3 separate regions of the Homo sapiens genome follow, and regions 2 and 3 are each linked to region 1. Evidence: fine-mapped expression QTL. A gene starts in region 1. Each other region holds a variant in brackets. All regions are shown on one strand. Distances are from middle to middle. Region 1 holds the start of GINM1 (glycosylated integral membrane protein 1). Region 2 overlaps GINM1 (glycosylated integral membrane protein 1). Region 3 overlaps PPIL4 (peptidylprolyl isomerase like 4).

Region 1 (2,643 bases):
TTAGAGTGTTCATATTCAAGTCTTGACTAGGAAGAGGTGTACCGACATAGTTTCTTGTCATTCTCAGAACACTTGCTCTTTAAAATATTCAAACTTTTCCCTACCATTCTACTGAAAAAAGGCTGATACTGGCCTAGGTAGGCACGACTCTACGGCAGGAATGGTGAGCATCAGCCACGTTTTAATGTTAGGATGCCTCGATTCTCCCACCTCAGCTGGCATCAGAAGCACCTGCAGGACTCTCCAACCCGGACTGCTGGGCCCCGCCCCCAGAGGCCGGGCTGAGTCCCCAGGGGATGCGGACACCGCCGATCGCGCCCCGCCGTGAGAACTTCTCCTCCAACATCCGACAAAAACATTACGTCGCGCGAGGGCCAGGTCTCTCCCTCTGCCCACCTGAGCCCGGCGGAGCCCCGCAGCCTCGGAACGGCGGACCCTCGCGATCGCAGGCCGAGCAGGCACAAGTGGCCTGGAAATGCGCGAAGTGGGCAACTTCCACACTTCCCGAGCACACAAACATTCCTTGCCCAAGCGCTGGCTCTACCCCGGGAAGGCGCCATTACGAAGGCCTGATCACCGGCAACCGCGCGCTTCGACGGCAAAGCCCCGTCAGGTCGCGCGCCGGCTTGGGCCGCCGGAGAGTCGGTGTGGAGTGGCTCGAGGCTCACTCACAGCGACGCAGCCCCAGTGGGTCCCTTTCCTCTTACCTCGGCCTCCCACGCCGCCCCCATTTCCTGGGGTGCTTCTCCCCACACCTCCTTCGGGGGCCCGGACCCCCGCCCCTGCCCGCCGGTGGGATGTGGGAAGCGTCACTGTGGACAGCCCGGGCCTCCCGGAGAGTCGGAGTCGTAAAGCGGCCAGCCAGGCCCGCCCTGCCCTACCTGTGGGGCTCCGGACAGCGGCGGCGGCTCGGGGGCGCCCGTCGTCAGCCAGCCGGAGGCGGGTAGCGCCACGAACAGCAGGAGCCGGAGGGCGAGCGACCCCGGTGGAGCGCCCTCCATCTTGGACAACCCGGGCAGAGGGCAGCCGCGGCCGGGAGGTGAGGGCGGAGCCGGCCCGCGGGCGGGACGGAGCTTCGGCGGGAGGGACGGGGAGGGGCGGGGAGAGACGGGGAGGGGCGGGACGGGCCCTCCCCTCCCCGGGCGGCCGCGGAGAGGCGCGGGGACGCTCCGAGATCCGGCTCGCCAGGGAAAGGCGTTTGCGCACGCGCAGCGCCGCGCGGCGTCGAGGGGCGGAGTGAAATCTTGGAAGGTACGGCCCCTCATTAGACCCGCCCTCAGGATTGGACAGGACTCCAACTGGAGCGATGTAAATGTCCTCGTAACCATTATTTTTAAAATTAGTATTTACACACATGCATGTGTCTGTGTGTGCACATGTACATGTACCTATACGATGAAAACAACGGTAATATTTCAGAAAACTGTTATACATTAAAAATGAAACATCGCATTTACAGGGGAAGTTTTTATTAAGTGGGTAATTCCCCACCCTTGGCTGCACGTGGGACTCTCCCGGGCAGCTTTAAAAAGTACTGGGGTCTTCCTGAACACCCCACTTTCCAGCCTGGGCTGCGGCTCGGGCCCTGGTGGTTTTTTAATTTTCTCGGGTGATTCATTGTGGGGCCAAGGTTGAGGATGCGCCATGCTTACTGTTCAGCATTCTGCCGACCCCTGGAGGCGGCGCGGGGACAGCGCTCAGCTGGAAGGAAGCCAGCGCACCTGGGCTGTCAGTGCCTTTTTGGTCAGTATCGTAACTCTAAAGTGAAAGTGTTAGACTTTTCTTCCACCTTGCAGATTTAAAAAAAAAAAAAAGTTACGGAACCCTGTAAAGCAGAGTAGCAAGAAATTCAAGCATTTTAGATTAACAGGATTGCATGTTGATTGAGAAAAACTTGGAAACTTGGCCATTCAGGCAGAATAAGAGTAATATTTAGTCTTCCTTTGAAATAAAACTTTTGACATGAAATAAAACTTTTGACATGAAAAAGGAAACAAGAATCTATTTCTCTCTTTGAGCCCCCTTTACTCCTTTGAACACCCTCCTCCCACAGGCCTGCTGACCGCCACCGCCCCCTCCCCCGGCCCCGCCCCAGAATAAATTATAAACGTTTTGGCTAAAGACTCCTTTCAACTAACTCCGGGCTTACTCTGAGATTCCCCACGCCATTGTTAAGCTACAAGTGATTTCACAGCGAAGCCCCACACACTTCTGGGTTCCATCTGCAAACTTGGCCTTTTCCTTTTTTTCCTACTGCTGGAATTAAAAATGAATTTGGAGATGGGCGTGGTCATTTGTGCCTGTACTCCCAGCTATGCAGCAAACGCAGGCAGGAGGATCGCCTGAGTCTATTAAAAAAAAAAAAAAAAAAAGGAATCTAGAAGCCGGGTGCAGTGGCTCACGCCTGTAATCCCAACACTTTAGGAGGCCGAGGCGGGTGGATCACTTGAGGTCAGGAGTTCGAGAATAGCCTGGCCAACATGGTGAAACCCCATCTCTACTAAAAATACAAAAATTATCCAGGCATACTGGCACGCACCTGTAATTCCAGCTACTAGGGAGGCTGAGGCAGGAGAATCGCTTGAACCCAGGAGGCGAAGGTTGCAGTGAGCCAAGATCGCGCCATTGCACTCCAGCCTGCGC
Region 2 (2,808 bases), 25 kb before region 1:
CAGAGCCTTGCTCTGTCGCCCAGGCTGGAGTGCAGTGGTGTGATCTCGGCTCACTGCAAGCTCTGTCTCCCGGGTTCACACCAATTCTCCTGCCTCAGCCTCCCGAGTAGCTGGGCCTACAGGTGCCCCCCACCACGCCCGGCTAATTTTTTGTATTTTTTTTTTTTTTAGTAGAGACGAGGTTTCACCGTGTTGGCCAGGATGGTCTCGATCTCCTGACCTCGTGATCTGCCCACCTCGGCCTCCCAAAGTGCTGGGATTACAGGCATGAGCCACTGTGCCCGGCCAGTAAAAATATTTTTTAATGAAACAACAGAAAGTATCACATAGAGGGCCAGGCGCGGTGGCTCATGCCTGTAATCCCAGCACTTTGGGAGGCCAAGGCAGGCAGATCACAAGGTCAGGAGATCGAGACCATCCTGGCTAACATGGTGAAACCCCATCTCTACTAAAAATACAAAAAATTAGCCGGGCATAGTAGCGGGCGCCTGTAGTCCCAGCTACTCGGGAGGCTGAGGCAGGAGAATGGCATGAACTCGGGAGACGGAGCTTGCAGTGAGCCGAGATTGCGCCACTGCACTCCAGCCTAGGCGACAGAGCCAGACTCCATCTCAAAAAAGTATCACATAGAGATGAGTTATATGTACTCGTTCACATTGTAAAATATTAATATGTCAATATGAGTGATGGTTAAAAAAGGTAATAAAACACTTTTAGGGTAAACAGCACTATATCTAGAACCACAAGACCAAGGGCACAGTCTAATTCATGACATCAATGGACTCATTCAATTTGAGCCATGGTTTCAGCCAGTGTAAATGAAAGTATACCTACTCCTGCATCTCAGCCATTCTTACCTGGGCAAAGGTTTTATATCAGTGTAACCAAAACAGCTATACTTTTTTCCTCAAAAAAAAAAAAAAAAAGTTTATTTTAGAGTGAGAACATGTCATACTACTTTTAAATCTTGGAGCATTCAAGGTAAGTAGTCTTGGTACAGGATACAATCAAATCATGATACACTTCAGTGATTTTATACTGAGTCACATACTTAATATAAAGGCACACTGTACTGAATAAAAAAATAAGTGTTAAGTTCTTGACCTTTTAAATTAGAATTTTATAAAGTGCTTTTCATAAAGTCTTATATATTATAGTAATTAAGTGGATATAATTTCCTTAACAAAGGCACCTTGAAAAGTTATTGGCACATGAGATTTTGTCTGGTCTTTTTTTTTTCTTTTGATAATTTCAAAGTCTCTTCACATGTGTTCTCTTCCACTTTAAGTTTTCCTTAACAATTCATCATATGAATAGCCAGCCCTTTTAGAGAATAAGGTCAACTTTTTTTTTTTTGAAACAGAGTCTCGCTCTGTCACCCAGGCTGGAGTGCAGTGGCGTGATCTTGGCTCACTGCAGCCTCCGCCTCCCGGGTTCAAGCAATTCTCCTGCCTCAGCCTCCCAAGTAGCTGGGACTACAGGCGTGCACCGCCACACCCAGCTAATTTTTTTATTTTTTTTAGTAGAGAC[AGG/G]GTTTCACCATGTTGGCAGGATGGTCTTGATCTGACCTCGTGATCCGCCCGCATTGGCCTCCCAAAGTCCTGGGATTACAGGCATGAGCCACTGCACCCGGCCGAGAATAAGGTAAACTTTAACTTGGCACTGTAAAGGTCAATTTTCAGGCAGTCTTAGAGTTTAGCAATTTCTCTAGTGTATAAACTGATTCTTAACGATTTAAAGAAAATTATATTCAAGTGGCAAATTTGGAGGCAACAGGCTACTTCGGAGTCCATGATATGAGATGGCGTTTTAAATACATGTTTTATCTTCAAGGTTTTCAGCTCTTTTCTCTGGACCATCTGGATATAAGTTGATAGCTGTCACAGGTATGACGTCCACTTTATCCAACTGAAGAATTCCTCTGAAATAGAAAGTGATTAATTACTATCAAAATTAAATGTTTCCTCTGCCTGTAGTTTGATAGTGAGAAAAGGCTACTTCAAGGTTATAATATACACCTAAGGTTAGGTGCTTTTGCTACATTCTATTTAAAAATTCATAGTGGTTGTACAAACTGAGCCCAAAGTCACTTTAACCAAACTGGCTGAGAGAATAGAAAGGCATCGAGGAAGTTCATTATTTCCTATTTTAGGGAAGAATAGGGTAAGTATAGATCTCCAAGGCAGAGTTAGGTTCCTAGATACACCCAGGCTGAGCAAAAAGCCTAAGCCTAAGCCTCTCTCTAAATAATACTCACCACCACAACACAACCTTAGGTCTTTAGATAGTGTTGCTCTTTTTGTTACTTAAAATCCCTGACCAGAGAGTACGTCTTTGGATTGAATCTAGGACCCTGCATTGTAAATTCAGTGTTATTCTAATAAGAACATCAACGGGGGTTAGTTGTTTATAGAACCAAACAGATTCTAAAGTTCACAGGGGAGTAACTGCAAGAACAGCCATAAGATTTTTTTTAAAAGAACAATGGGGAGAAGACAAAGTTGTCTTAAGTAGCTCTCAAAGGTTTTATTAAAACATGATAGTAGGCCAGGTGTAGGGGCTCACACCTATAATCCCAGCACTTTGGGAGGCCAAGGCGGGCAGATCACTTGAGCCCAGGAGTTCAAGATCAGCCTGGGAAACATGGCAAAACCCCATCTCTACTAAAAATAGAAAAAATTAGCTGGGCATGGGACACATGCAGTCCCAGCTAGCTAGCTATTCAGGAGGCTGAGGTGGGAGGATCGCTTGAACCCGGGAAGTGGAGGTTGCAGTGAGCCGAGATCGTGCCACTGCACTGCCGCCTGG
Region 3 (2,808 bases), 40 kb after region 1:
GACATAATGTTGTCTTTTGATAGACTTCAGAAACACTGAGGAGATCTTACTGGCTGTGTTGCTTCTTACTGTTTTTTATTTTCAAGATTTTGGGGGGAAGGGCATGTTTATCCAAGAGGAGACACTTTACAGGTGATCTTATCAGAAATAATCTCTGAAAGAGTGTTTGAATGTATGTATAAAGGGATGTTGTTGCCCCATCTAAATGTGATAGAGTTGCATACATATATGGTAAAACTCTGATGATATGCAAGGAAATGACTGAAAAAGGAAAACCAAAAAGCAGGGTATTTGTTGTCTCTGATGAGGAGGCACAGGGAGAATGGGATAGGTGACATTTTAGTTCTTAAGCTAGATGGTAGCATCATAGTGGTTTTTATTTTTATGCTTTATGACTTACATGTACTTTACATAAATTCTTATCCTTTAAAAAATATATCAAATACTTGAAAAAAGATGAAGTAGGGGTAAAATTGGTCTTTGAAGCCAGATAAATGTAGGTTCAAATCCCAGCTCTGTTGTTTACCACTGTGTGGTCTTGGGCAAGTTACTTGTTTAACCTTTTAAATTTCACTTTACTTGTCTTTATTTTATTTGTTTATTTATGAGATGGAGTCTTGCTCTGTCGCCCAGGCTGGGGTGAAGTGGCGTAGCTCACTGCAACCTCCGCCTCCTGGGTTCAAGCGATTCTACTGCCTCAGTGTCCCGAGTAGTTAGGACTACAGGTGCACACCACCATGCCCGTTTAATTTTTGTATTTTTAGTAGAAATGGGGTTTCACCATGTTGGCCAGGCTGATCTTGAACTCCTGACCTCAAGTATCTGCCCCCCTTGGCCTCCCAAAGTGCTGGGATTACAGGCATGAGCTACCATGCTCAGCCGCTTTACTTGTCTTTAAAATGGAGATTGCAGGATTGTTTCAAGAATTAGCGTAATAGATCTGAAGCTCCAAGCACTGTTCACACAAAGTATGAGTTATTTAAATATTAGCTATTAACACTGTTAAGAATAGGAACAGTGTAGTTCAAATTTTGAAATCTTATTTGGATTTCTTTTCCAGAGCCTGCAGTTTGTAACATAAATTTAGATGTTTTAAGGAAATCAGCATTGTGGGATTGGATAGGATTTAGAATGGAAACTAAATAGGAATTGATTTATGTTTTTGTTTGTTTGTAATTTAGGTGGGAGACCTACCTGATGCAGATATTAAACCTCCAGAAAATGTACTGTTTGTGTGTAAATTGAACCCAGTGACCACAGATGAGGATCTGGAAATAATATTCTCTAGATTTGGGCCAATAAGAAGGTAATCCTTAGAATTAGTGAAAGAGATATTTAGAAAAACTAGGTATCAGTTGGTGGTTTTCTAATGACATATTTTGATGATTCTGTGAATTCTAGGCGAATTTTGTACTGGTGAATTTTTACAGGTGAGTCTTTGGACAGTAGGGAAGAAAAGTATATATGTGTGTGTAGACATACATACATACGTGCACACACACA[C/T]ACAGATAAATAATTGAATCTCCCACTCTCAACACATTTTCACCCTAAAACAGGAAATGAATGGAACAATTTAAATCTAGTTCTGTAATACTCTCAACAGCCTTCTTTAATATTTAAAATATTTATCTCATTCAACTCCTGGAATTACCAGCAATTTATGTCAAAATTAATTTAAAACTAAATTTTCTAAAATTTTTCTTTTGGTTAGTTTTCCCTGCATTAATGAAAAAGTCTATGAAGCTAGTATTTCTGTGAGGAAGGGGACTATTTTGTAATTGATTAAAAAGTATTATATTTAGGGTTTCCTTTTGTTTCAGGGATTTTATTTTATTTTATTTATTTTTGTTTATTTTTTTGACATGGAGTCTCGCTCTGTTGCCCAGGCTGGAGTGCAGTGATGTGATCTCGGCTCACTGCAACCTCTGCCTCCCGGGTTCAAGTGATTCTTCTGCCTCAGCCTCCTGAGTAGCTGGGACTACAGGCATGCGCCAACACGCCCAGCTAATTTTTGTATTTTTAGTAGAGACGGGGTTTCACCATATTGGCCAAGCTGGTCTCGAGCTCCTGACCTTGTGATCCGTCCGTCTTGGCCTCCCAAAGGGCTGGGGTTATAGGTATGAGCCACTGCGCCCGGCTTTTAAAATGAGGTTTTTAAAATGAGACTTATGACACTTGGGGCAAGGGACAAGCCAGGTGCTTTCAACTTCAGCTTATTGGCCTTTTCACTTGGTTATTATGGTATATTAGTTCTGTAATTAACATTGTGCTTACAGTGTTAAATTTGAGCTTGATTTATATTAAAATTCAAAAATTTCAAAGCTTGAACTTAAACATTTATATATGTATGAGTATGCATACATTATTCTACAGTAATGTTAGATGTTAGATATTCTATAATTCGACTATATTTGGACTAGAAAAGTGTTGTGATTTTAAAAGTCTTTAGCAGTAGTTTACTTTTGCCAAAGGAAAATTAAATATTTTTATTCTTACTTCAGTGCTTAAGGGAATTTAGGACTGTAGGCCTATATAAGGCACTTAGAGTAGAATTTAGATAATTTAGTTACTGCTCTGGTGAACTACTTTTAAAAAAGAATTGTTATTAAATGAATTTGGAAAAATAATCTATGAATTTAACTTTGCCTTGTAGTAACTGACTTATTTCTTCTTCAGTTTTGAAGAGTGAGAGTGAATGCTTTCTTCCTTTTTTTTTTTTTTAAGTCACTTTTAAATACTTTCTTTCAGTTGTGAAGTTATCCGAGACTGGAAGACAGGAGAGTCCCTCTGTTACGCTTTTATTGAATT

Evidence for each region. PIP is the estimated chance that this variant, and not a neighbour inherited with it, causes the effect.
Region 2: its variant is fine-mapped to the expression of GINM1 in whole blood (TOPMed, PIP above 0.99). The same link has a PIP of 0.9 or more in lung.
Region 3: its variant is fine-mapped to the expression of GINM1 in whole blood (INTERVAL, PIP above 0.99).

Annotation. Positions count from the first base shown.
Region 1 is chr6:149,564,773-149,567,415 of GRCh38, reverse strand. It overlaps GINM1 (glycosylated integral membrane protein 1), which reads right to left and starts at 1,041. Exons shown (of 8, transcript NM_138785.5): 1 at 882-1,041. The coding sequence starts at 1,001. RefSeq lists enhancers at 445-494, 1,745-1,874 and a silencer at 765-1,314.
Region 2 is chr6:149,589,840-149,592,647 of GRCh38, reverse strand. GINM1 (glycosylated integral membrane protein 1) reads right to left here. Exons shown (of 8, transcript NM_138785.5): 8 at 900-1,921. The coding sequence ends at 1,810. Among named protein-coding and RNA genes, the nearest start is that of GINM1, 25 kb to the right of the region's middle. The variant AGG/G (reference allele first, on the strand shown) is at 1,531.
Region 3 is chr6:149,525,150-149,527,957 of GRCh38, reverse strand. PPIL4 (peptidylprolyl isomerase like 4) reads left to right here. Exons shown (of 13, transcript NM_139126.4): 8 at 1,182-1,306; 9 at 2,749-2,808. Among named protein-coding and RNA genes, the nearest start is that of PPIL4, 19 kb to the left of the region's middle. The variant C/T (reference allele first, on the strand shown) is at 1,504.